Linked DNA regions of Homo sapiens. The protein of the gene in region 1 purifies or fractionates together with the protein of each later gene. This does not show direct contact. Each region holds a gene or a part of one and is shown in the gene's direction. Other genes may lie near its edges. The genes, in order: SIAE, NAAA, CEMIP2, TGFBR3, MYORG, COL18A1 and PLTP.

Region 1 (3,127 bases):
GTAAGAATACTATCTATGGGTAGCTTTCCTCCCCTTAATGTGAAAAATGAGAACTAAAGCAAAAAGCATCACTCACTGTACATATACAATGTATTTTACGTAGTGTAAAAAATATGGTTTAGATAGTGAATATATTAATGAAATCATATGTAAATTTATTTTTAGTGGCTGAATAATTTAAAACATTATGTGGAATTCACTATGTTTCCCCCAATTTAGGAACTTTTTACTGTGTGAAAATGAAATTTATAATACTCTGTAGGGTGAATGATGGTTTTTGCTTTAGTTCTACCCCTCTGTAGAGTTCCAAGGGGTTCTGGTGTAGCTCCAAACAGCAGGAATAACTTTGTCAGTGCCAAGATTTTATTTAGTTAAAAAACAAAAAATCTACACACTTTACAAGGAACGTTGGCTCCCCTGAGGACTTCCTAGCATTCAACTCGTTCAGTTAACCCCTATTGCCCATGCTTTGACCTCTCATGCATCTGGCCCCATAGAAACCATGAACCTTGTAACAGATTGATGCCTGAGAAAAAGTCAATCTACCCGTCCACTCCTCCACTCCCAATACACATACCCCCATGGGCTGTTCTAATTCGGGGGCAGCCAGAGGTAGCCAAGAACTCTAAGTCCAGATTCCTTTCACCTCCAGGAACCTAGAGTACATAGTGTGAAAAATACGGTTCAGGCAATGATTATGTTAATGACGCCATGCACATTCATTTTTAGTGGCTGAGTAATTTAAAACATGATGTGGGAATTCACTGCATTTCCCCAAATGTAAGAACTTTTTAGTTTTAAAATGAAATTTATAGTCACTGTAGAAAATTTGGACACTAAAGTATAAGCAAGTAAAAATCACCCCCAAATTCATCATTCAGAGAAACACTATTTTGCTGAACCATTCACTTGACTTGAGTTATATAATTTTATACAGTACATATTATTTTGTAATCTGTGTTTTTGACTTACTTACTTTACCAAAATAATTTTCTTATGTAAATAATAGAATATAGATTTAGAGTGTTTCAGTTTGTGGAAGCCTCATTTTATTTAACCAATTTCCTATTAATGGACATATAGATTTTTAACAATTTTCTACTATTAAAATAATACTGTAATGAATATCACATGCAAACATCATACCACACTCGTCCAGTTATTTCTTAGGGTTCTTAACATGGAAGAGGATAAATATATATTTAAAATTTAGATATCTACAGCTTAACCCTCCCAAAGGATTAAACAACTTACATTCTCACCAAGGTAGTCCTTTTTTTGCCCTCACCCTCATTGACACTGGATGTTGTCAAATTTAAAAAAAATCCTTAACAATCTGATAGATGAAAAGATAGTTTAAGTATACTAAGGCAGTGTTTTTCAAGGTGTTTTTGTTTTTGTTTTTGAGTTGGAGTTTTGCTCTGTTGCCCAGGCTGGAGTGCAGTGGCGCGGTCTCGGCTCACTGCAACCTCTGCCTCCCGGGTTCAAGCGATTCTTCCTGCCTCAGCCTCCCGAGTAGCTGGGACTACAGGCGCGTGCCACCACGCCTGGCTAATTTTTTGTATTTTTATTAGAGACCGACTTAGCCAGGATGGTCTCGATCTCCTGACCTCTTGATCCACCCGCCTCAGCCTCCCAAAGTGCTGGGATTACAGGCGTGAGCCACCGTGCCCAGCTTTTCAAGTTTCTTAAATCCATGATCCATAGTAAAAACATTTTACACATATCTTCATACAAGTATATGTATATGTGGTATACGTACACACTATAGTTGTATATGCATTATAGCTGAAAAACCAGTTCAACCTTTCTACATGTGGTATGTTCCAAAAATTTTAAATGTCTTTCTAAAATGAGGCTCTTTTAATACGGGTATTACTCAGGCTGTAATAGTGGGAAAATATTTGTTATATGATAAAAGCAGCATATATCATTTCTGTGTAAATGCCAGTATGCTCAAGCCATTTATGCAGAGAAAAAAAGAAAAACACTGCATTAACATTTTAAGCAGTCCCCTTCCCGATTTGCTATTATACAAAGTTTGTTTCTTTTACATTGTAAAGTGTATACAACTTATAAAAAGACTATACTCAAAATCATAAAATACCAGTTAACTTAGCTTCTCAGTTTACAGTGGCCAGTGTGGTGTGCTCTAAACACTGCTGCCTGATCCCTCCCTCTGCTGGTCAGATTTATTACTATAAAGTACCAATCCCATTTGTGTTGTCCTCAATTGGCAATTATGAATGGCAGTGCATTAACCATTCAATTCTCACCACTCCATCCCCATTCTTCTACTTCTGGGTCCTTTTGTCCCTCCCTTTCCAGACAGCCCTTGGTAACCTGCTGCTGGGTAACTAAGGCATCCCACAGGTAGTGTTGAGGTGTTAGGTGATAGAGTAAACCTCTACCTTAATGCTATTAACAGGGTCCAAAAATCCAGTTGCATGGAACATGGAGTTATATTATTACATGGCTAATGAAAAGACAGGACTAAGTCTGTTATAGAGTATGGGACTAACCCCCAATTATATGTGAATTTGTGTTATCATATGGTTTCAGTGTACTGAGCTAAAAAGCACATTATCTGAGGTGCAATACAAAGGTTAAAGAGGTTAAAGATCCCCTTGAAGGATGTGCAAAATGTGAAGAAAAAGATGAACAGTGTACCTTGGACTGGACTTTCCATCTTGAGTTTAAGCAGAACATTGGATTTTGATGATACTGACATGAAAATTAAGCAGCAGCCTGGGTTGCAGGGGCTGGGACTTGATATTCCTTGAATTAGGATCACAATCAAGAGTAGAAGTTTGTCAGAATCTCCCTATCTCCCTCGTTAGTCAGCTGCTGCTACTACAGACTTAATGTTTATATGTCCCCAAAATTCATGTTAAATCCTAACCCCTAATGTGATGGTATTGGGAGGTGGGGCCTTTGGGAGGTGATTAGGTCATGAGAGCAGACCTCTCATGAACCGGCTTAGTGATCTTATAAAAGGGACCCCGGAGAGCTGCCTTCCTCTTCTACCACGTGAGGACACTGCAGGAAGACAGCTGTCTAAGAACTAGGAAGTGGGCCCTCACCAGACATTGAATCTGCGCTCCTTGAACTTGGACTTCCCAGCATC
Region 2 (3,500 bases), on another chromosome or scaffold:
CTACTAAAACTACAAAAAAAAAAAAAAAAAATTAGCTGGGCGTGTGGGTGGGTGTCTGTAATCCCAGCTACTTGGGAGGCTGAGGCAGGGGAATCGCTTGAACCTGGGAGGCGGAGGTTGCAGTGAGCTGAGATCGCACCACTGCACTCTAGCCCAGTGACAGAGTGAGACTCCATCTCAACAACAACAACAAAAGTATTATCATACACAGGACCTCATTCGATCCCCCCAGCAGCCCTGTGAAGCAGGCATAAGTCAACATTTTAATCTTTACTTTCTAGATGAGGGGGCCCAGCTTCACAGAGACTGACTTGCCCCGAATCACAAGGCCTCTAGAGACATGGCAGAGGTAGGGCCAGAACCCAGGCGTTAGGCCTACTGATAGTTTTTGTTTACAGCCTTAATTAGGCTGTAAATTATTATTATTATTATTATTATTATTATTATTATTATTATTATTACTACTACTATTGTTTTTATTTTTGAGACAGAGTCTCGCTCTATCACCCAGGCTGGAGTGCAGTGGCGCGATCTCGGCTCACTGCAACCTCTGCCTCCCATGTTCAAGCAATTCTCCTGCCTCAGCCTCCCAAGTAGCTGGGACTATAGGAGGGTGCCACCACACCCGGCTAATTTTTGTATTTTTAGCAGAGATGGGGTTTCACTATGTTGGCTGGTCTTGAACTCCTGAGCTCAGATAATCCACCCGCCTCGGCCTCCCAAAGTGCTGGGATTACAGGTTTGAGCCACCGCACCAGGCACCAGGCTGTAACTTAAAATTCCCTGCTAAGGGTTTGTTTATGTTAACTGACTAGGCAGAAACAACTGGGAAGTACAAACAGAAGTAAAGACAGATTTTCAGAGCTGCAAGATAAAATATCTTACAAATTATATCTCAAAATTATTTATAATTATGTATCGTAATTGAAAACTACGATGTGACTTTTGATCTCATAACTTCAATTTTCTCAGCCCTCCAAGAGTGACCCTGACGATCACGGTGTCACGCAAATGAGGTGGCCATATAATTACTTTTTATTTTCCATATAATTACATTTGAGTAGTAAGGAAGACTTATTTCTGCTTTACCACCATGCGTGGAGATGAGACATTCATGGAGGTCCTCAGTAAGTCTGAGGGCTGAGGTCATTTATAAAGCTAAGGACACTGCATTCTCCCTTGTAATTCAGCCACCTTAAATTATTTTTACAAGCAGATAAGGTAAAAATAAATAATTAAATGAAAAACATTACTGACCTAATTTTTCTAAGGAAAATATCAATCTAGGACTATCTATTTCTTAAAACATAATGGTATTAGTTAACTTTTATTGAACAGTATGAGTCAGATACTGTTTTAAGTACTTTTTTTTTTTTTTTTTGAGACAGAGTCTTGTTCTGTCACAGGCTGGAGTGCAATGGTGCAATCTTGGCTCACGGCAACCTCTACCTCCTGGGTTCAAGCGATTCTCCTGCCTTAGCCTCCCGAGTAGCTGGGACCACAGGTGCGTGCCACCACACCCAGCTAATTTTTGTATTTTTGGTAGAGTTGGAGTTTCACCGTGTTGGCCAGGCTGGTCTTAAATTCCTGGCCTCAAGTGATCCGCCTACCTTGGCCTCCCAAAGTGCTGGGATTACAGGTGTGAGCCACCATGCCTTGCCAAAGTACTTCTTTGAAAAATAAAATTTGGTATCAGAAATAACTGATAAAGGCTAGCTGTGGTGGCTCACACCTGTAATCCCAGCACTTTGAGAAGCCAAGACAGAAGGATTGCTTGAGCCCAGGAGTTTGAGACGAGCCTGGGCCACATAGGGAGACCCTGTCTTTAGGAAAAGCAAAAAAAAATTTTGTATATATTTATATATCAGTCAGGTTTGGTGGCATGCACCTGTGGTCCCAGCTACTTGGAAAACTGAGGTGGGAGGATTGCTTGAGCCCAGGAGGTCGAGGCTGCAGTGAGTCGTGATTGCACCATTGCACTCCAGCCTCGGTGACATACAGAGTTTGATTTTTCTCCTGCAGGTTACATAGTGGTATCTTGCAATCACTGGAGCTTGTGACCTTAATTTAAAGTAGGAGTGATGCCTATAATTCATGGGATAGTTGTGAGGATTAAATGAAAGAGCTTTGTTAAAGGATTTTTAAATATTTAAAATTTAAATGTGATTATTATTGGTGAACAGTCCCACTTTGATATTCTAACTTCACAGAGCTTATAAAATATGTGATATTCATCTCTTATAATCAAATCAAAACAAGTTTTATTTTATTTTATTTTATTTTTGAGACAGAGTTTCACTCTTGTTGCCCAGGCTGGAGTGTGATGGCGCTATCTCGGTTCACCGCAACCTCCGCCTCCCGGGTTCAAGTGATTCTCCTGCCTCAGCCTCCCTAGTAGCTGGGATTACAGGCATGTGCCACCACGCCCGGCTAATTTTGTATTTTTAGTAGAATCCAGGTTTCTCCACGTTGGTCAGGCTGGTCTTGAACTCCCGACCTCAGGTGTTCTGCCCACCTTGGCCTCCCAAAGTGCTAGGATTACAGGCGTGAGCCACTGCTCCTGGCTTCAAAACAAGTTTTAAAGTAAGACTCCACTTGCTACTTCTAGGATGGGGCTTCTTAACCTGCTTTGTGCACCCCTTTGGTGAATACTGTTTTATAAATACATAAAATAAAATACGTAGGATTACAAAAAAAATCAGTTGTGTTGAAAACAGCCATTTCAATGTTATACTTTTTCTTAACACATTAAATAGTAAGGTTTAGCAGGGGGTCTAATAACTACCATGATTTCAAAGTAGTAAATTATGGATAGTGTTTCAAAATAACTGCAGCCAACATTGTGTATGTGAAAATATCTGTGATTTCTACTAGTGGCAAAATTATAGGCACCACTATGATTGTGTGATTTGTTGCATGCATTCATTATAGAAGGAGTTAAATTTCAGTTAGAGGTTAGTGAAAATAAAGATGCATCTTTTTTTTTCCCATCCAAGGTCACAAATCTACTAAAATCTATCTATGGACCACACCCCCACCCACCCCAGCTTAAGGTTAAGAACCTCTGTCTTAGAAGACTATTTCAGAGTTTTATTCTATTGTGTTGGAATTTATAAGAAAAAAAATCCAGAAAATTGTGGGGCAGAACAGGTGATTTCAGTGTATTTGATTGGAATGGTGAAATGATCCATGTTATCTCTTGATTTCAGATTGCATTCACAGGAACTACTTTTATTGGCTATGTAGGATTATGGACTGGCCAGAGCCCACACAAGTTTACAGTTTCTGGTGATGAACGAGGTAATCAAAACAAACCCCTGTGTAATTTTAGCTACATTATTGTTCAGTTCTATCCAAGCACTTCCTTCACTCACCCAACAGAATATACAGAACACCCACTATGTGGCAGGGACTTCCATCCTAGGGGGAGAAAGTGGACAGTATGCATGGAAGCAATGAAGATTTCAGGTAGCAATAAGTGCTGCAAAGAAAGCAAAATA
Region 3 (2,824 bases), on another chromosome or scaffold:
GGGAGGCTGAGGCAGGAGAACTGCTTGAACCTAGGAGGCAGTTTGCAGTGAGCCAAGATTGTACCACTGAACTCCAGCCTGAGCAACAGAGCGCGACTCTGTCTCTAAAAAAAAAAGAAAGAAAGAAAGACTACCATAAAGAACCCATACCAGCATGAAACTTAAGGTACTTAATCTTAAGAACCATCGAGACCCACATTAAGACATACCACACAAATTTCAACTTCCTGTAGGTATCCTTGATGACTCTGAAAATAAATCAATCTAATGTTACCTTTTAATTAATAAGAGCTACTCAGAGCCCCCTAAACACTGATTTGTTCTTGAAAATTTTTGTTTCAGTAATACCGGCCAAGAGTTCAGGCACAGTGGCTCATGCCTATAATCCCAGCACTTTGGGAGGCCATGGCGGGACGATTGCTTGAGGCCGGGAGTTCAAGACTAGCCTGGGCAATGTAATGAGACCCTGTCTCTATGAAAAATTTAAAAATTATCTGGGTATGTGGGCACATACCTGTAGTCTCACCTACTGAGGAGGCTAGGACAGGAAGATCCCTTGAGCCCAAGAGTTTGAGGCTGCAGTAAACTATACTTGCATCACTGCATTCCAGCTGGGGTGACAGAGCAAGGACCCTATCTCTAAAAAAACAAAAGAAAACAAAAATAGTTGCCCAGGCTGGAGTGCAGTGATGTGTCCACAGCTCAATGTAGTCTTGACCTCTCAGGCTCAAGTGACCCTCCTACTTCAGCCTTCCAAGTAGCTGGGACTACACGTGCACACCACCAGCCTGGCTGGTTATTTTTTGTTTTTGTTTTTGTTTTTAATTTTATTATTTTTCTAATTTTTTGTGGAGATGGAGTTTTGCTGTGTTTCCCAGGCTGGTCTTGAACTCCTGGGCTCAAATGATCCTCTCATCTCAGCCTTCCAAAGTGCTGAAATTAAAGGCATGAGCCACTGCACCCGGCTGGCCAAGAACATTTCTGATTAAAGTTTTTGAAAGAGTGAGTTTGTATGTGTACACACACACACACACACACACACACACACACAGAAAATAAATACATTATTAAATATATTGCTAAAGGATATGCAACAGAAGTTGAATAAAAGGAGAGACTCTGTTTCTGAATGGAAAATTAATAAATGTTAATTTCATGGACCAGTTTCATGGAAGATAATTTTTCCATGGACTGGAGGTGGAGGGGGATGGTTTCAGGATGATTCAAGTGCATTACATTTACTTAGTTAAAATATAAATTTGACACATTTCCATTAGTGTCCCAAAAGGTACTTTTCTACTGTACTTGACAGTTGATACTGTAGTTCATCTGGAAGAATAAATGAGAAAGTAGTAAAATATAAACAAATTACAGTAATACAAGGGCTTGTTTTTATCAAATATTAAAATGGACCGTGAAGCCATAGGCCAGCATAGTTTTGGCAGAGAAGAGCAAGATCAGAGAAGAACGGAGAATCCACAGATAGGTCCAAGTATGTATGTTGGCTTACTATGTGACAAAAATGGTAATTCAAACCATGGAAAACACATTTAGTCGTTTATTTATTTTTAGAATTGTGTTTATCCATTTATTTAATAAATAGATAATAGAACTTAAATAAATAGAGTATTTGAAACAAAACAAAACCATTCTCCCATGTTACAGTAGACTTACTCCCTGATAGACAATGGAGAAGGAAGGGTGAGGGGTGGATGACAGGAAATTACTGAATAGGCACAGTGTACATTATTTGGGTGATGGATACCCTAAGTGCCCTGACTTCACCACTATGCAATCCTATGTATGTAATGAAATTGCACTTGTGCCTCACAAATTTATACAAATTATAAACAACAACAACAACAATAGACTATTCCCTAAAAGAGCTGTGCCCCAGACCATCCACTAGGTCAGCAGTCCCCAGCCTTTTTGACATCAGGGACTGGTTTCATGGAAGATAATTTTTCCATGGACTGGAGGTGAAGGGGGATGGTTTCAGGATGATTGAAGCACATTACATTTACTGTGCACTTTTTTTCTATTATTATTACATTGCAATATATAATGAAATAATTACACAGCTCACCATAATGTAAAGTCAGTGGGAGCCCTGAGCTTGTTTTCCTGCAACTAGATGGTCCCATCTGGGGGTGATGATCAACAGATCATTGGGCATTAGATTCTCAGGAGCACACAACCTAGATCCCTCACATGTGCAGTTCCCAATAGGGTTCTGCTCCTATGAGAGTTGAATGCCACAGCTGACCTGACAGGAGGCGGAGCTCAGGCTGTAATGCAAGTGTTGTGGGGTGGCTGTAAATACAGATGAAGCTTCGCTCGCCTGCTCACCTCCTGCTGTGCAACTTGGTTCCTAATCTACTGGTACCCATCCATGGCCCAGGGGTTGGGAAGCCCTGCACTAGGTGAACGTACGTAAATGATTTGGTTTATGTATGCGTTACCCCTTGTAAGAGCAACGTGTGAAGCCCATGGTGGTGGGGTGGAAGAGTGGGAATTGGATGGAAAATCATCTAGACTTTTTTCTTTTTGGAGTTCTGCTTTTATCTAATATTTCTATTCAGCAGTCAGTTCAGAAAGATACTCAGTAGAAAGATACTCATGCTGAAGGATTGAAATTGGCTCTGACTTTCTAAATTTCACATACAGGTCCATTGTTCTGTTGAGCACAAGAGGAGAAATAAAGCAGTTAAACATTTCACACTTACTAGTACCTCTGGGATTAGCCAAACCAGCTCATCTTTATGACAAAGGTTTGTATTTGTATTATTTCATGAAGTTCTTACAGGGCCAGCAACATAGGTAA
Region 4 (3,500 bases), on another chromosome or scaffold:
TCTTCAGGCTCCTAACAGTATTGGCTTTGGAAAAGAGAGTGAAAGATCTATGACAATGACCAAATCAATAAGAGATGACATTCCTTCAACCCAAGGGAATCTGGTGAAGTGGGCTTTGGACAATGGCTATAGTCCAATAACTTCATACACAATGGCTCCTGTGGCTAATAGATTTCATCTTCGGCTTGAAAATAATGGTAAGTTAGAAGTTTTTTAAGTTATGTAAAAAATACCCCCCAAATGAAGCTTTTCCAGTGAGGAACTGTCATTTCAGCTTATATGTTGCTGTTTTTCTCTTGTACATTTTAATAATTTGACTACTTTTTATCAGAAGGCTTAAAATTACCTAGACAGAGATTTTGAGGAAACTGTAATACAGATTTTCAGTGACATAGAGTTGAATGCATATTCAGAGAACTTTGTTATAGGTTATCTTTAGTGTGATTACATTAGGTTCTTCTCTCCGAGACACCTAATGACCACTTATGGCTGAGAATACAGAAGAGTTAAGACTGCAGGAAAGAAGTTCATGGTAAAAGGCTGTATCTTTTAGGAAAATAGTCACGAGGACTCATACTTGAGTGTTCATACCCAGAGGATGGCAGGAGTTACTACCCCAGCTGAATGGGGTGGAAAGCAGAGGGTCAACAAATTCTTGAGGTTTTCTGGAGTCTTCTAGCTAGCATGACTTGAAACCCTAGTTTTGTGATCCCTAGACCTGTTCCTCAGCTCATGGTACCACCACTGAGTGAAATGCCAATAGAATAAGGATTAGGAGTACAGGTTCAAGCCCCAGCTCTACCATTTAGTCACTGTTTGGGGAGAAGTTGCTTCACCTCTGAGCCACAGATTTTTCTTCAGTAATAAGGGGAAAATAATAGGACAGACCTTACAGGGTTGTTGTGAAGGTTTTCGTGAAAGTACAAATTAAAAACCCTACAAAGCTATGACTTATTTTGGACCCTTACAGCTCTAGCGTCCTTTCCAAAGAATATTATTAAAGGAGAGATAATGTCCAACTATCATCTTCACTTCCAGCTTCCACTGAGATGGATTTGACCTCAAGTGTACATCAGTTGGCCTTAGATAGTAGATATAAAGAATACTGGGGAAATTATTATTTTTTTAGTTGTTAGAAATACGACAAAATATTGAGTATTGATTGTATGGAAATACGTCTCTCCCTTTGAAGGAATAAATGTATCTATGCAGCTATTTCTTATCTTTCAAGGGAATATGTTCCAAAAGGCCAAGGTGCCCAGATACCTGTTAAAATTTAGCTGTCAAAAAGAAGGTGGTGAAGTAATTTTAACATACCAATATTGTTTCAAGACATCATTAGAGAAATTATTCAAAAGACTCTCTTGATTCAAGGAAAGTATTTTAGTGGCATTTCAATGGAATAATATTGCATCATGTAACTTAAATCACAGATTTTTCTAGCTTGGACAGCCTTAGAAACTGTCTGTTCCATTGGTTCTCAGTCTTAGGTGCACATTGCAGTTACACATGGAGAGACTAAAACATATTAATGATTGGGTACCACCCCAGAGAGTCTGAGTTTAAATTGTTTGGGGTACAACCTGGGCGTAGGAATATTTTTTAAAGCTCCCAAGTGATTTTCATGTGTAGCCAAAGTTAAGAACCACTGATCATTTCCAACCACTTAATTTAAAAAATTGGAAAAGCAAATTTGAGGCACAGAGAAGCAAGCCGCTTGCCTAAAGCCACTGAGCTAGTTAGAGAGAACACCAGGACTAGAATTCAGGCTTCTAGACTTCTAATGACCTTTATGCACTGCTTATTAAAAGTCATTTTACACCTGCCCATTCTATGCTAATTCCTCCTGTTCTGCCTGTAATGATGTTGGTTGTGGCCTGGCATCAAACACTGCTGATGTTTTGCCTTCTTCTTTCACCAGCAGAGGAGATGGGAGATGAGGAAGTCCACACTATTCCTCCTGAGCTACGGATCCTGCTGGACCCTGGTGCCCTGCCTGCCCTGCAGAACCCGCCCATCCGGGGAGGGGAAGGCCAAAATGGAGGCCTTCCGTTTCCTTTCCCAGATATTTCCAGGAGAGTCTGGAATGAAGAGGGAGAAGATGGGCTCCCTCGGCCAAAGGACCCTGTCATTCCCAGCATACAACTGTTTCCTGGTCTCAGAGAGCCAGAAGAGGTGCAAGGGAGCGTGGATATTGCCCTGTCTGTCAAATGTGACAATGAGAAGATGATCGTGGCTGTAGAAAAAGATTCTTTTCAGGTCGGTGCAGCTGATTACAGGAGGGAAGAGAGGCTACCTCCTTTCCCATCTGGCCCTAGTCTGCATCTGTAATTTCTCCCTATCTCTTTCATTTTTGAACTCCGGAGGCTTGATACTGTTTTCTCAGTTGGATGGGCCTACTTCCCCTTGGCTGTGATTCTCACCTGGTTCCTGTTGTTCTCAGTGACAGGGGGTGGGGGTTCCAGATCCTTGTGTGTCAATATTTTGCTATTGAATTTCCAAGGCCAACAGATACTACCCTTGAGCTGTTGAGAGGTGGGCAGCTGGGAAGAGATACTTGGGGAAGGGGCACGATGCAGGCCTCTCATCGCCTGTCCTTGGAAGACCAGGCAATTGTCAATTGTGTCAATTATACAACAGAACTGCCTGTGGGCCTCCAACCATGTCTTTGGTGGTTGTTGTTTTAGGCCAGTGGCTACTCGGGGATGGACGTCACCCTGTTGGATCCTACCTGCAAGGCCAAGATGAATGGCACACACTTTGTTTTGGAGTCTCCTCTGAATGGCTGCGGTACTCGGCCCCGGTGGTCAGCCCTTGATGGTGTGGTCTACTATAACTCCGTGAGTGTTTTCCAGAACAAAGCTTTGCCCTTTGCCAGAGCCTGGCTGTGTGCTCCCTTAAAGTTAGTCTTAACATTTCTTTGAAGATGAAGAGGGTTTTCACCCCAGGCCTGAAGAAAGCCAAGTGTCAGTTCTCAACAAAATGGATGTACTTTGACCCTGAGCTCTTTGGTTTTATTTGTTTTATTGGTGAGTCTTTGGGAATTGGAAGGCCTGTTTTCTCACCCCCCGTTTCCGTCTCCTGATGACAAAGGCTGCACTGTCAAGGTGATTATGACTTCTCTCAGTGCCCAAGCTCAACTGGCCCTTATAAGGATAAAATTTTAAGGCCCTGGGCTATATGAACGAGCAGCACCTCTGCACAGCCGGGTTAACCAGATGTGTGGTCTCTCTGGCCTCATTTGAGTCTCGTCCAGAAGTAGGAGAACTTCTCCCTCCTTCATGAATAAAAATCCAAAAAGAGAATTTAAAACTCAAAAAGGACCTTTAAGGAATTATTAAGTCTCTCTCCACCTCTAAGAAAGACCATACATTGAAGAAACTCTCCTACTTTTGAAGTTACTTGGAGAAAGATTCCACAGATTTCCCCCAATGATAAACCGTTGCAATAGCTAAGCTGCATTTTCCAGAAATCTTTCTTCTCAGTTGGTCAAAATCTTT
Region 5 (3,500 bases), on another chromosome or scaffold:
TTTGGGTGTCTTCTTCAATCTCCAGACTTCATCAGGCTTTTGACTCAGGATAAAAACACATCCCTGAGCTGTTCTCCCTTCCTCCCTCCTCTCCCCCTCTGGGGACAGGGAAGCTAGCCTACCGCCCTGTTAAAAGTCTCAAGGGGGACTGGGCGAGGTGGCTCACGCCTGTAATGCCAGCACTTCTGGAGGCTGAGGCAGGTGGATCACTTGAGGTCATGAGTTCGAAGCCAGCCTGACCAACATGGTGAAACCCTGTCTCTACCAAAAATACAAAAATTAGCTAGGTGTGGTGGTGTGCGCCTTTAATCCCAGCTACTCGGGAGGTTGAGGCAGGAGACCCGCTTGAACCCAAGAGGCAGAGATTGCAGTGAGCTGAGATCATGCCACTGCACTCCAGTCTGGGTGACAGAGAGAGACTCCATTTCAAAAAAAAAAGTCTCAAGGAGCTGGCTGGACAATACCCCCTCTCCCACCCTGACCATCCACACCTCTAGGAGAGCAGGACTTTTCTAGTTCCTTTCCCGTCTCTTCAGCCCGAACGGCCCCATGTGTGATCTGGGGAGGCCTGGCTTATCCTGTGATCCTGGAAAGCTTCCTGACCCTCTCAGGGTTTGTTTCTCCACTAGGAAAATGAGGATGGGTGCCATCTCCCAGTCACATGGGCCGCTCCCCAGTCACAGAGTCCTAATTTGGGCAAGCATTAGGTCCCATGAGAAAGGGTGGGTTAGGCACAGATTGTCCTGGTAAGGGTCTCACCTTTGCCACTCTTCAAGCCCTCAGGTTCCAGTATTCATCTTCCCAAAGTATACACCTCCTCTTAGCTTGCGGCAGCAAATGGAAATATCATGGGATGAGATAGCTCAGTTCCATCTCTGTCTCCTCCTTTCAGAGCAGGTTGAGATGAACTCAGTCAGATGGCCCCACGGCCCGCTCCTTTCTTAGCAGCCCACTAATGCTCCAGAACCCTCAGGAGAAGAGCCAGGCCTACCCCCGCCGCCGCCGGCCTGGCTGCTACGCATACCGTCAGAACCCCGAGGCCATCGCAGCCGCAGCTATGTACACCTTCCTGCCCGACAACTTCTCACCTGCCAAGCCCAAGCCTTCCAAAGACCTGAAGCCGCTGCTGGGCTCCGCGGTTCTGGGGCTGCTGCTTGTGCTGGCCGCGGTGGTGGCCTGGTGCTACTACAGCGTCTCCCTACGCAAGGCGGAGCGACTTCGCGCGGAGCTGCTGGACCTGAAAGCTGGCGGCTTCTCCATCCGCAATCAGAAGGGAGAGCAGGTCTTCCGCCTGGCCTTCCGCTCCGGCGCGCTGGACCTTGACTCCTGCAGCCGCGATGGCGCCCTGCTGGGCTGCTCGCTCACGGCCGACGGGCTGCCGCTGCACTTCTTCATCCAGACTGTGCGGCCCAAGGACACGGTCATGTGCTACCGCGTGCGCTGGGAGGAGGCAGCGCCGGGCCGGGCCGTGGAGCACGCCATGTTCTTGGGCGACGCGGCGGCCCACTGGTATGGTGGCGCCGAGATGAGGACGCAACACTGGCCCATCCGCCTGGATGGCCAGCAGGAGCCCCAGCCGTTCGTCACCAGCGATGTCTACTCCTCCGACGCCGCGTTTGGGGGCATCCTCGAGCGCTACTGGCTATCTTCGCGCGCGGCCGCCATCAAAGTCAATGACTCAGTGCCCTTCCACCTGGGCTGGAACAGCACGGAGCGCTCGCTGCGGCTTCAGGCGCGCTACCACGACACGCCCTACAAGCCACCCGCCGGCCGCGCCGCAGCGCCAGAGCTGAGCTACCGAGTGTGCGTGGGCTCAGACGTCACCTCCATCCACAAGTACATGGTGCGTCGCTACTTCAACAAGCCGTCAAGGGTGCCAGCACCCGAGGCCTTCCGAGACCCCATTTGGTCCACATGGGCGCTGTACGGGCGCGCCGTGGACCAGGACAAGGTGCTGCGTTTTGCCCAACAGATCCGCCTGCACCACTTCAACAGCAGCCACCTGGAAATCGACGACATGTACACACCTGCTTATGGCGACTTCGACTTCGATGAGGTCAAATTCCCCAACGCCAGCGACATGTTCCGCCGCCTGCGCGACGCCGGCTTCCGCGTCACGCTCTGGGTGCACCCTTTTGTCAACTACAACTCGTCGCGCTTCGGCGAGGGCGTGGAGCGCGAGCTGTTCGTGCGCGAACCCACGGGCCGGTTACCTGCGCTGGTGCGCTGGTGGAACGGCATCGGCGCGGTGCTAGACTTCACGCACCCAAAGGCCCGCGACTGGTTCCAGGGACACCTGCGGCGGCTGCGCTCTCGCTACTCCGTGGCTTCCTTCAAGTTCGACGCGGGCGAGGTCAGCTACCTGCCGCGGGACTTCAGCACCTACCGGCCGCTGCCGGACCCCAGCGTCTGGAGCCGGCGCTACACTGAGATGGCGCTGCCCTTCTTCTCGCTGGCGGAGGTGCGCGTAGGCTACCAGTCACAGAACATCTCCTGCTTCTTCCGCCTGGTGGATCGCGACTCTGTGTGGGGCTACGACCTGGGGTTGCGCTCACTCATCCCCGCGGTGCTCACCGTCAGCATGCTGGGCTACCCATTCATCCTACCCGATATGGTGGGCGGCAACGCCGTGCCCCAGCGGACAGCCGGCGGCGATGTGCCCGAGCGCGAGCTCTACATTCGCTGGCTGGAAGTGGCCGCCTTTATGCCGGCCATGCAGTTCTCTATCCCGCCCTGGCGCTACGACGCGGAAGTGGTGGCCATCGCGCAGAAGTTCGCCGCCCTGCGGGCCTCGCTTGTGGCACCGCTGTTGCTTGAGCTGGCGGGCGAGGTCACCGACACGGGTGACCCTATCGTGCGCCCCCTTTGGTGGATTGCGCCCGGCGACGAGACAGCTCACCGTATCGACTCGCAGTTCCTTATTGGGGACACGCTGCTTGTGGCCCCGGTGCTGGAGCCAGGCAAGCAGGAGCGCGACGTCTATTTGCCCGCCGGCAAGTGGCGCAGCTACAAGGGTGAGCTTTTCGACAAGACGCCGGTGCTGCTCACCGATTACCCGGTCGACCTGGATGAGATCGCCTACTTTACCTGGGCGTCCTGACCCAGCCCAGGGCCCGGTAACCGCAAAGCCCCCAGTCTTCATGCAGACCTTGAACCCTCCGTCACACCCGCACCATGTACTCCCAGGAACCTCCCACCTCTATACCACCCATTAAGTGGCTGCTGACTTAAATGTGCTGGAACCAGCTGCTGAAGGTGGGGCCTAGGGAGGGGGCACTGAAGCAATCTCCTGCTCCAACGCACAATCCTTACTGTGCCCTTTCCACCCCCACACTCACACCAATCTGCAGAAACCTCTTCCCTGGGGTGGAAGCCAGAGAGCTTAGAGGAAAAAGGTCAGCTCTCTTCCTGTTATACATGGTTATACATGGTTGGGGTTTAAAAGCACAAAGAGAAACCTCCCCCTCCTGGCTTTCGTGGCCATCTTTGTCCATCTTAGG
Region 6 (3,500 bases), on another chromosome or scaffold:
GTAGCACAGTGCCCAGGCACTGGGGCAGAGGTGGATCCCGTAGTCCCTCGGTGGGAGCTCCAAAGCCTCCCGTTTTCATCTCTTCCTCTTCCCAGGATGGGATTTTGGGGATGAGATCTTCCTGGTGGGCTGGAGTCTGTCCCAGAAGTCAACAGCCCAACCTGGGGCCAAAAAAGACCCTCTTAGATAAGGCAGGCCCTCGGCAAGACTCCAGCCACACATGAGAGGGTGGAACAGAGCTCCTGAGTCCCACTAACCACGGCCACCTGCAGTGGTCAGGTGGGGGCACCGTGTCCATCCCCCCATGGGTTTGTGCCAATTTGCATATAGGTATGTAGCTTCCTATTGGCGACTGTAAGAAATTGCCACAAATTCAGTGGCTTAAACCAACACAGCTGTCTTACCTTTCAGTTTTGGAGGTCAGAGTCTGAAACCAGTTCACTGGGCTGAAACCAAGGTGTTGTCAGGGCTGGGTCCCTCTGGGACTCTGGAGGAGAATCTGTTTTCTTGACTTTTCCAGCCTCTAGAGGCTGCCGCTTCCCTTCGCTCAAAGCCCCTTCTTCCCCCTTCAAAGCCAACGGTGTTGGACAAGTCCTCATGGTGCCATCTTTTGTCCTTCGATTTTAAGGCTTTGTGTGGTTAGAAGTGGATCATCTCCCATCTCCAGGTCCACAGCCTGAGTCCCAGCTGCAGCATCCCCTTGCCACGTAAAATTACGCTTGTGGGTTCCAGCTGTTGTGCCGTGGACATCCTTGGGGCCATGGCTCTGCCCACCACAGTTTGTCCATGTGCACGGCTGCACATGTGTACATATGCATGGGAGTCTTACTTTGCATTAATGGGATTGCCCTGTGTCTGAAAGTTCCTCTTTCCTTTATCCTGCATCTCAGGAGTCTCCATAACTCCAGGGAGATGCTCTGCTCTTCGTGTTGTTCTGGTCTTTTCCTCAGCCCTTCCTGACTGAAGCACTCGCAGGTATTTCTGCTTCTCTGTATAACAGATGACCCTGCAGACACCTGCTCAGCCCCGACTGGCGGGTTCATCGCACAGCCTCGCCTTTGTTTATCAGACACCAGCTGAGCCACCCCACCTGTGCCTGGCGTGGGTTTTGGGTCAGCGCTGACGGTGGAGAGATTGAATGTTGTAAACGTGTCCGAGTGTCAACAGGAAGTCTCCACCCGGGGACAGGGGCCCGTTTCTTAGGTTGTTTTTAGCCTTCCGTGGGGGCTCTGCAGCCTTGGGATTTGGTGGAGGTGTTTGTTCTGAGGCCGTTTTTCTTTGATGCCAAGATGTCCCCCCGGGCACTTCACTGCGTAAGTGCTATGGTGTGATGGAGTGATGATGGTGGCGCACTCTTCAAGCTCTGGATCAGGTTCCGGAAGCTCTGTGTGAGTCTTACTGAGGTGGTTATTTTCTCTTTTCCCTGGAAAGTGGGCTGAGAGCACTCCATGTGGGCACGAGCGGCCCTGGCTCTGCAGGACTGGAGGGGGCTGTGCTGGAGGGCGGGGGGCTGGCCAGGCAGCCTTGGATCTTGTCCTCAGGAGCCCTTCAAAGGGGCAGCAGAGACTCCAGGCCCTGTGCCCCGAGGAGTCAGGCTGGGCTGGTTCTGGGGAGTGTCTGGAGCACCTGATGCTGAGCACAGGCGGGCGTCCGTGGAGTGCACGTGTCTGAGGGTCTCTGAGGGGTTTGCCCTTTTCTTCGGAGCCACGGTGGCCGTGAGGGATGCAGGACATTGGGTGTGGCCCTCGAGGACTGGCCTGTCTGGAGCCCACTCCCCCGTGGGTGAACGCGGCTCTTGGTGGAGAGCCCAGTTTGGGGAGAAGGGACGGTCTTGTCCTGGGAGGTGTCAGACAAAGCCGAGCATGGGACTCACAGGAGACCCCCAGTCAGGCCGTGTCAGGGTGAGGCTGGGAGTGAGGGTCCTGGAAAGTCCGGCTTCTGGGAGAGGGCGCTTTGGCTCAGAGGCTGCCACTGCAGAAGGGATGGACGTCCCCGGTCCCCTAAGATAAGGGACCCAAGGGGAGGGGCGGGGACGTTCCACACTGGTGTGAGAACAGCGGAGAGTCCCAGCCAGAGGTACCCGCTGCTCTCCTGCGGGGAGGATGCTGGCTGCACTGTCTGTCCTGGGCATATTTAAAGGGGCCTCTGTTAACACACACAGGCCTCCAGAACCATCCACACTTCTGGCTGGCCTGATTCCTGAGGGGGAAATGGTCTTTAAAGAAGCAAGCACCTTGATCCAAAGGGAGGTGGTCCAGCAGGAGGGGCCGCCCCACCATACCCAGGAAGGTTGAGCTCTCGCACCCGGGAAGGCTGAGCTCTCGCACCCGGGAAGGCTGAGCTCTCGAAATGGGGTTCAGGCATTTGCTGTTTGATTCCAGGACATCTGAGACAGCTGGGCCTGTACCTCGGGGAGTGGAGGCTGCGCCATTCTCTGCCCATCCAGCATCTTAGGGCCGGGCATTTGGAAGCTGGCTTCTGAAGGGAGCCCCCAGGAGCTTCGTGGAGAGGAGACGGGACAGCTTTGGAAAGGGCGTTGCTGTCACTGGGGTCCCTGGGGCCGCCGGTGTAGCGTGCTGGTACCCTCCAGCCCAGGAAGGTGGCAGCTGCCGCATCTTGCTTTCCCAATGACGGAATGTTCTAGGAAGGGTGGTGGGAGGTTTCTCCAAGGTGAACGCGGGGGCAGCTGGGTGGCTGGCACGGCCTCTGGCCCCCAGGCCGAGTCCTGTTTCCTGATCTTATCACAGCCCCAGCTTGGACATGTGGGACCAGGCACTTCTTATGAGAAAAAGGATCATTGTAACAGCTGCCATCTGGATGGACGATCATTGTAACAGCTGCCATCTGGGTGGACGGCGGCCTCTGTCTGAGGGGGATGTGACCGCTGGCCCCCAGAGCCCAGGCTCAGCCCGTTGGGACCCCTCTGCCCCTGGCCCAGACTGTGGCTGCAAAGCCCGGGCTCTGCCTGGCACGGCAGGTGTGCTGGGAAGTCACTCTGAGCAGGGTCTGCCCTTGAGTGGGTGCTGCCCCCCTCCCGTGGGCAGGAAACGAGGTGTGAGAACTCTGGGCACCGGGGCTGCGTCCTGGCTTGGGCTCCCTGGGCGAGGGATGGACAGGGCTCCTTCTGACCCTGGGCTACTGAGTCGAAGTGAAGTCAAGCTCCGCCTGGGCAGGAATGAGTGGAGTGAGTCACCCGGCGCTGTGGGGCATTTGCACGGAGCAGCGGGGCTGGTGGGGAGACTGTGGCACGTTGGCAGGTACGTCAGGCATGCAGCCCCTCCAAGGGGTGATTGTGGCCCCGAGGGGAATCAGCATGGGGGGGATGGGGAGATACAGCTTGTCCTTGCCACATGAAGCACCTGGCCCAGCAGGTGAGCCGGTGACCGACAGCGCTGGGTGAAATCCCGCACCGTGTCCTCAGATGCCACGTGGAACCCCAGCTGAGGCAGCCACTCTGGGCGACGCCCCGTAGCCGAGGCTTCGAAGAACACTGGGGTGTG
Region 7 (4,020 bases), on another chromosome or scaffold:
TGGGGAAAGTCCTAGGCAAATCAGGATGAGTTAGTCATCCTTCCTAGATGAGTGTTTGGTGCTAAATACATGCTCAGCAGACATGATTATTGCTTCCCCTTTCTTTCGTCCATTTGGCAACAAAAAGGTGGCAAGCACCCACTCTGTGCCCTGTCCTAGGGTCCGGGAACCCTGTAAGCAGTAGATGGAGGTGGGGGTGGGGGTGGGGGCGGGGATGCTGTTCAGAGCACCTTGCTCCAAGGGTTCATTAAAAAATCCACCAGTGGACCGGGCGCGGTGGCTCATGCCTTTAATCCCAGCACTTTGGGAGGCCGAGGCGGGCGGATCACAAGGTCAGGAGATCGAGACCATCCTGGCTAACACGGTGAAACCCCGTCTCTACTAAAAATACAAAAAAAATTAGCCGGGCGTGGCAGCGTGCGCCTGTAGCCCCAGCTGCTGGGGAGGCTGAGGCAGGAGAATGGCGTGAACCCGGGAGGCGGGGCTTGCAGGGAGCCGAGATCGCGCCACTGCACTCCAGCCTGGGGGACAGAGCGAGACTCCGTCTCAAAAAATAAAAATAAAAAAAATAGAAAAAACAATCCACCAGCCACGATAAATGGCAGACCTCCTTCTGATTTCAGCCGGTGTGGTATGTTCCTGGGCTGACAGCACTTGTCTAGTCTTGCTTTCCCAAGTGGGAAAGGTCTCTGGGACCTTAAGGTCCCCAGGTGGTGACACAGAGACAGGTAGGGGGGCCCATAGCAAAGCCAGGCAAGGAGGTCCCGAGATGATTGTGGGTGGCAGGGAAAGAAAAAATATTCCTTGACTTTGTGCCTGGACCTGGTTGTAATAAAGGCCCAAGAGGTAGTTCCTATCATCGTGCACATTTCGCTGAAGGAAGAAACTGAGGGTCAGTGACCCAAGTGAAGTGACTTGCCCAAGATCATGCAGGAAGACATGGATAATTGTAATTTGAACCAAGGTCCCAGCAAAGTGGGATTGTTGGGGCTGAGTGGGCCGGCTCCTGCATTTCCTTCCCTCTCCCTGGGCTTGGGTCTCCCACTTGTCCAGACAGCGGCCGGGCTTGTCACGGGGCTCTGTGCAGCCTTTTCCACTCTCCCGGCTGCCAGCGTCCCGCCCCGTCCCCTCCCAGCCCCCAAGGGAGGAGGGGAGAGCTGCAGAGAGGAGGAGGGGTCGGGGAGGCCGGCTTTATAAAGGCGGCTGGAACAACCCTGCCCGCCAGACCCCGTCGCCCGGATCCCCTGAGCTGCCCGCCATCCCACGTGACCGCGCCGCCCCCCAGCTCCACCGCTGAGTGAGTTGGGGCGCGTCCCTATCCCGTTCCCAGTCCCTCGCCGAGCCGCGTGGTGCACTGAAGCCGGCGTGGGGAGGAGAGCCGATGAAGGAGAACGCTAACATGGGGGCTCCAGGCAGAATCTCTAATGGGAGAGATTTAGGACCTGAGGGAGCCGGGAGACCCGGGAGCCCACGGTCTGGTCGGCCACCTCCTCTCCTCCCCGGGCGCGAGGCCTAGGAGACCGCAAGCCACCCTCCAAGAATGCGCGTGCAGTCGTTGCCGTGGCAACGTGCAAGCCTGCATGGGCCCACCGCTAAAGGAAAGGGGAGGTTGTTGGGGGTGTGGGGGCTGGTCCCCTGGAGGTCCAAACTCATCACGCGGCGGTAGCACGAGGGAACTGGGAACGTCCCCTCCCCCGTGTCCCAAATCCTCTGGGAGCCAGAACGCAAGTCGCATCGCCTCTCTGAGCCTCAGTTTCCACATCTGCCATATGGAGGCAAGATTATTGGTTCCAAGTTCCCCGAAGAGTTATCTGGAGGGTAACGATCCAGGCTAGTTCCCACTTATGGTTGGACGTCCAAGGAATGGGTTTAAGCGGCTCAGATAACTCCTGCGACCCCACCCCACCCCCAGGCCCGCTCGCCATGGCCCTCTTCGGGGCCCTCTTCCTAGCGCTGCTGGCAGGCGCACATGCAGAGTTCCCAGGCTGCAAGATCCGCGTCACCTCCAAGGCGCTGGAGCTGGGTAAGGCGCAGGGGCAGACAGGGACGGACGGGAGCGGACGGGGTTGGGGTCGCCCCAACAGTGGGCACGGGAGCTAAGTAAGGGTTTCTCTGCTGCTTCAGTGAAGCAGGAGGGGCTGCGCTTTCTGGAGCAAGAGCTGGAGACTATCACCATTCCGGACCTGCGGGGCAAAGAAGGCCACTTCTACTACAACATCTCTGAGTAAGTGGGGGGCGGGGCCTCGCGATCCGGGGCGGGGCCTCGGCGGTGGAGGCGGGGCCCGAGAAATCTCAGGGTCTCGGGAGACTGGAGGCTGAGTGGGATGGGGCGTGGCCAAATCGATGAGGCAAGACTTAAGAAACCGGATGGGGCCGAAAAGATAAAGGCCAAGCCAGTCATCATAGGCGGGACCAGGCAGATGGGCGTGGCCTTGAAAATGTAGAGGGGGCCAAGAAGGAAGCAGGACCAGTGGATGTGAGGCGTGGTCGAAGAACAACAGAAAGGTGGAGTCAAGGAACTTCCCAATAGATGAGAGTGGAGTCTCGGGCACGGGGTGGAGTTAATCGGAGGGGTGGAGAAACTGAAGGCTCTAAGTATGGTTTAGGATGAGGGAGGGGGAATAAGGAATTGAGATGTGAGACGGAGCTTAGGTGATGGAGGCAAAGTGAACGGACTCTATTAAAAGACCGGGTGTAGCAACCCCAGGGTGTGGGAGGGGAGGGGGTGCAAGCAAACAAGACTTTTTTTTTTTTTTTTTCTGAGAGGGAGTCTTGTTCTGTTGCCCAGGCTAGAGTGCAGTGGCGCGATCTTGGCTCACTGCAACCTCCGCATCCCGAGTTCAAGCGATTTTCCTGCCTCAGCCTCCCGAGTAGCTAGGACTACAGGCGCGTGCCACCACGGTCTGCTAAGTTTTGTATTTTTGGTAGAGACGGGTTTCACTATGTTGGCCAGACTGGTCTCGAACTCCTGACCTCAAGTGATCCGCCCTCCTCGGCCTCCTAAAGTGCTGGGATTACAGGCATGAGCCACCACCGCACCTGGCAAACAAACAAACAAGACTTTTAAGCGATGGGGTGAAGCTCATTTTTAACACCTGGATCAGGAAGACCTCCTCTCTCAGCCACCCAAGTTCAACTTTGAGCCACCCAAGTCTAAGTTGGGCACTTGAGGGACAATGGAAGAATTCATTCCACCCACTCCCGCTTCCCCAGGCCTGGACTTGAAAGGGGAGCAGACAAATTTCCTGTCGTTGGGGGAAGTTCCCTCTTCTTGGCCCTGGATCTGACCCTGAGGCCTCCTGTAGGGTGAAGGTCACAGAGCTGCAACTGACATCTTCCGAGCTCGATTTCCAGCCACAGCAGGAGCTGATGCTTCAAATCACCAATGCCTCCTTGGGGCTGCGCTTCCGGAGACAGCTGCTCTACTGGTTCTTGTAAGGACCCAGCACCCTCAGGGGAGTGGAGAGTGGGTCAGGAGGGCTGGAGGTGCTGTGGGGCTGTGGGCAGCCCCCTTAGCCTTCCTGAGTTTCCGTTTCTTCATCTGTGTAACAGAAACAGGCATATGCATTTCATACGAGTTGATAGGAAGGTTTGGTAGGATGTGTGGAAAGAGGTGAAACCTTATTAAGAGGTATGGTGATGCATGGGGGCACTGAAGACTCAATTGAGCTCCTACCTGGAGTGAATATTAACCCCCCTGGCAGCTATGATGGGGGCTACATCAACGCCTCAGCTGAGGGTGTGTCCATCCGCACTGGTCTGGAGCTCTCCCGGGATCCCGCTGGACGGATGAAAGTGTCCAATGTCTCCTGCCAGGCCTCTGTCTCCAGAATGCACGCGGCCTTCGGGGGAACCTTCAAGTAAGCCCCAGCCCCAACCCCAGCTCACCCTTTTCGAGCCCCACAGCTCATCTGCCTAGCGCAATGCAAAGTGCATAGGCCTGGGAATCAGACCAACTGGGTCCAAAGCTCAGCTCTGTCACTTCCTGGCTGTGTGAACGTGGCCAAGTCACTGAAGCTT

Evidence for each region.
Region 2: the proteins of SIAE (region 1) and NAAA purify together in Homo sapiens (affinity purification with mass spectrometry; 2 studies listed by BioGRID and IntAct, with this or other methods). This does not show direct contact.
Region 3: the proteins of SIAE (region 1) and CEMIP2 purify together in Homo sapiens (affinity purification with mass spectrometry; 2 studies listed by BioGRID and IntAct, with this or other methods). This does not show direct contact.
Region 4: the proteins of SIAE (region 1) and TGFBR3 purify together in Homo sapiens (affinity purification with mass spectrometry; 2 studies listed by BioGRID and IntAct, with this or other methods). This does not show direct contact.
Region 5: the proteins of SIAE (region 1) and MYORG purify together in Homo sapiens (affinity purification with mass spectrometry; 2 studies listed by BioGRID and IntAct, with this or other methods). This does not show direct contact.
Region 6: the proteins of SIAE (region 1) and COL18A1 purify together in Homo sapiens (affinity purification with mass spectrometry; 2 studies listed by BioGRID and IntAct, with this or other methods). This does not show direct contact.
Region 7: the proteins of SIAE (region 1) and PLTP purify together in Homo sapiens (affinity purification with mass spectrometry; 2 studies listed by BioGRID and IntAct, with this or other methods). This does not show direct contact.

What each region holds. Positions count from the first base shown.
Region 1 is NC_000011.10:124,632,613-124,635,739, reverse strand, and holds the end of SIAE (sialate O-acetylesterase isoform 1 precursor), read left to right. Parts: 3' UTR 1-2,627; downstream 2,628-3,127. UniProt on the Homo sapiens protein: Catalyzes the removal of O-acetyl ester groups from position 9 of the free diacetylated sialate N-acetyl-9-O-acetylneuraminate (Neu5,9Ac2) in the cytosol and of the diacetylated sialate residues of sialylglycoconjugates in the lysosomes.
Region 2 is NC_000004.12:75,931,014-75,934,513, reverse strand, and holds part of NAAA (N-acylethanolamine-hydrolyzing acid amidase isoform 1 precursor), read left to right. Parts: intron 1-3,209; coding exon 3,210-3,300; intron 3,301-3,500.
Region 3 is NC_000009.12:71,685,690-71,688,513, reverse strand, and holds part of CEMIP2 (cell surface hyaluronidase CEMIP2), read left to right. Parts: intron 1-2,667; coding exon 2,668-2,771; intron 2,772-2,824. UniProt on the Homo sapiens protein: Cell surface hyaluronidase that mediates the initial cleavage of extracellular high-molecular-weight hyaluronan into intermediate-size hyaluronan of approximately 10-5 kDa fragments.
Region 4 is NC_000001.11:91,718,652-91,722,151, reverse strand, and holds part of TGFBR3 (transforming growth factor beta receptor type 3 isoform a precursor), read left to right. Parts: intron 1-7; coding exon 8-197; intron 198-1,921; coding exon 1,922-2,259; intron 2,260-2,687; coding exon 2,688-2,840; intron 2,841-3,500. UniProt on the Homo sapiens protein: Cell surface receptor that regulates diverse cellular processes including cell proliferation, differentiation, migration, and apoptosis.
Region 5 is NC_000009.12:34,370,399-34,373,898, reverse strand, and holds part of MYORG (myogenesis-regulating glycosidase), read left to right. Parts: intron 1-892; 5' UTR 893-955; coding exon 956-3,100; 3' UTR 3,101-3,500.
Region 6 is NC_000021.9:45,464,165-45,467,664, forward strand, and holds part of COL18A1 (collagen alpha-1(XVIII) chain isoform 4 preproprotein), read left to right. Parts: intron 1-3,500. UniProt on the Homo sapiens protein: Probably plays a major role in determining the retinal structure as well as in the closure of the neural tube.
Region 7 is NC_000020.11:45,909,356-45,913,375, reverse strand, and holds the start of PLTP (phospholipid transfer protein isoform a precursor), read left to right. Parts: upstream 1-1,220; 5' UTR 1,221-1,297; intron 1,298-1,912; 5' UTR 1,913-1,923; coding exon 1,924-2,023; intron 2,024-2,124; coding exon 2,125-2,224; intron 2,225-2,381; exon of another isoform or gene 2,382-2,505; intron 2,506-3,305; coding exon 3,306-3,434; intron 3,435-3,704; coding exon 3,705-3,860; intron 3,861-4,020. UniProt on the Homo sapiens protein: Mediates the transfer of phospholipids and free cholesterol from triglyceride-rich lipoproteins (low density lipoproteins or LDL and very low density lipoproteins or VLDL) into high-density lipoproteins (HDL) as well as the exchange of phospholipids between triglyceride-rich lipoproteins themselves.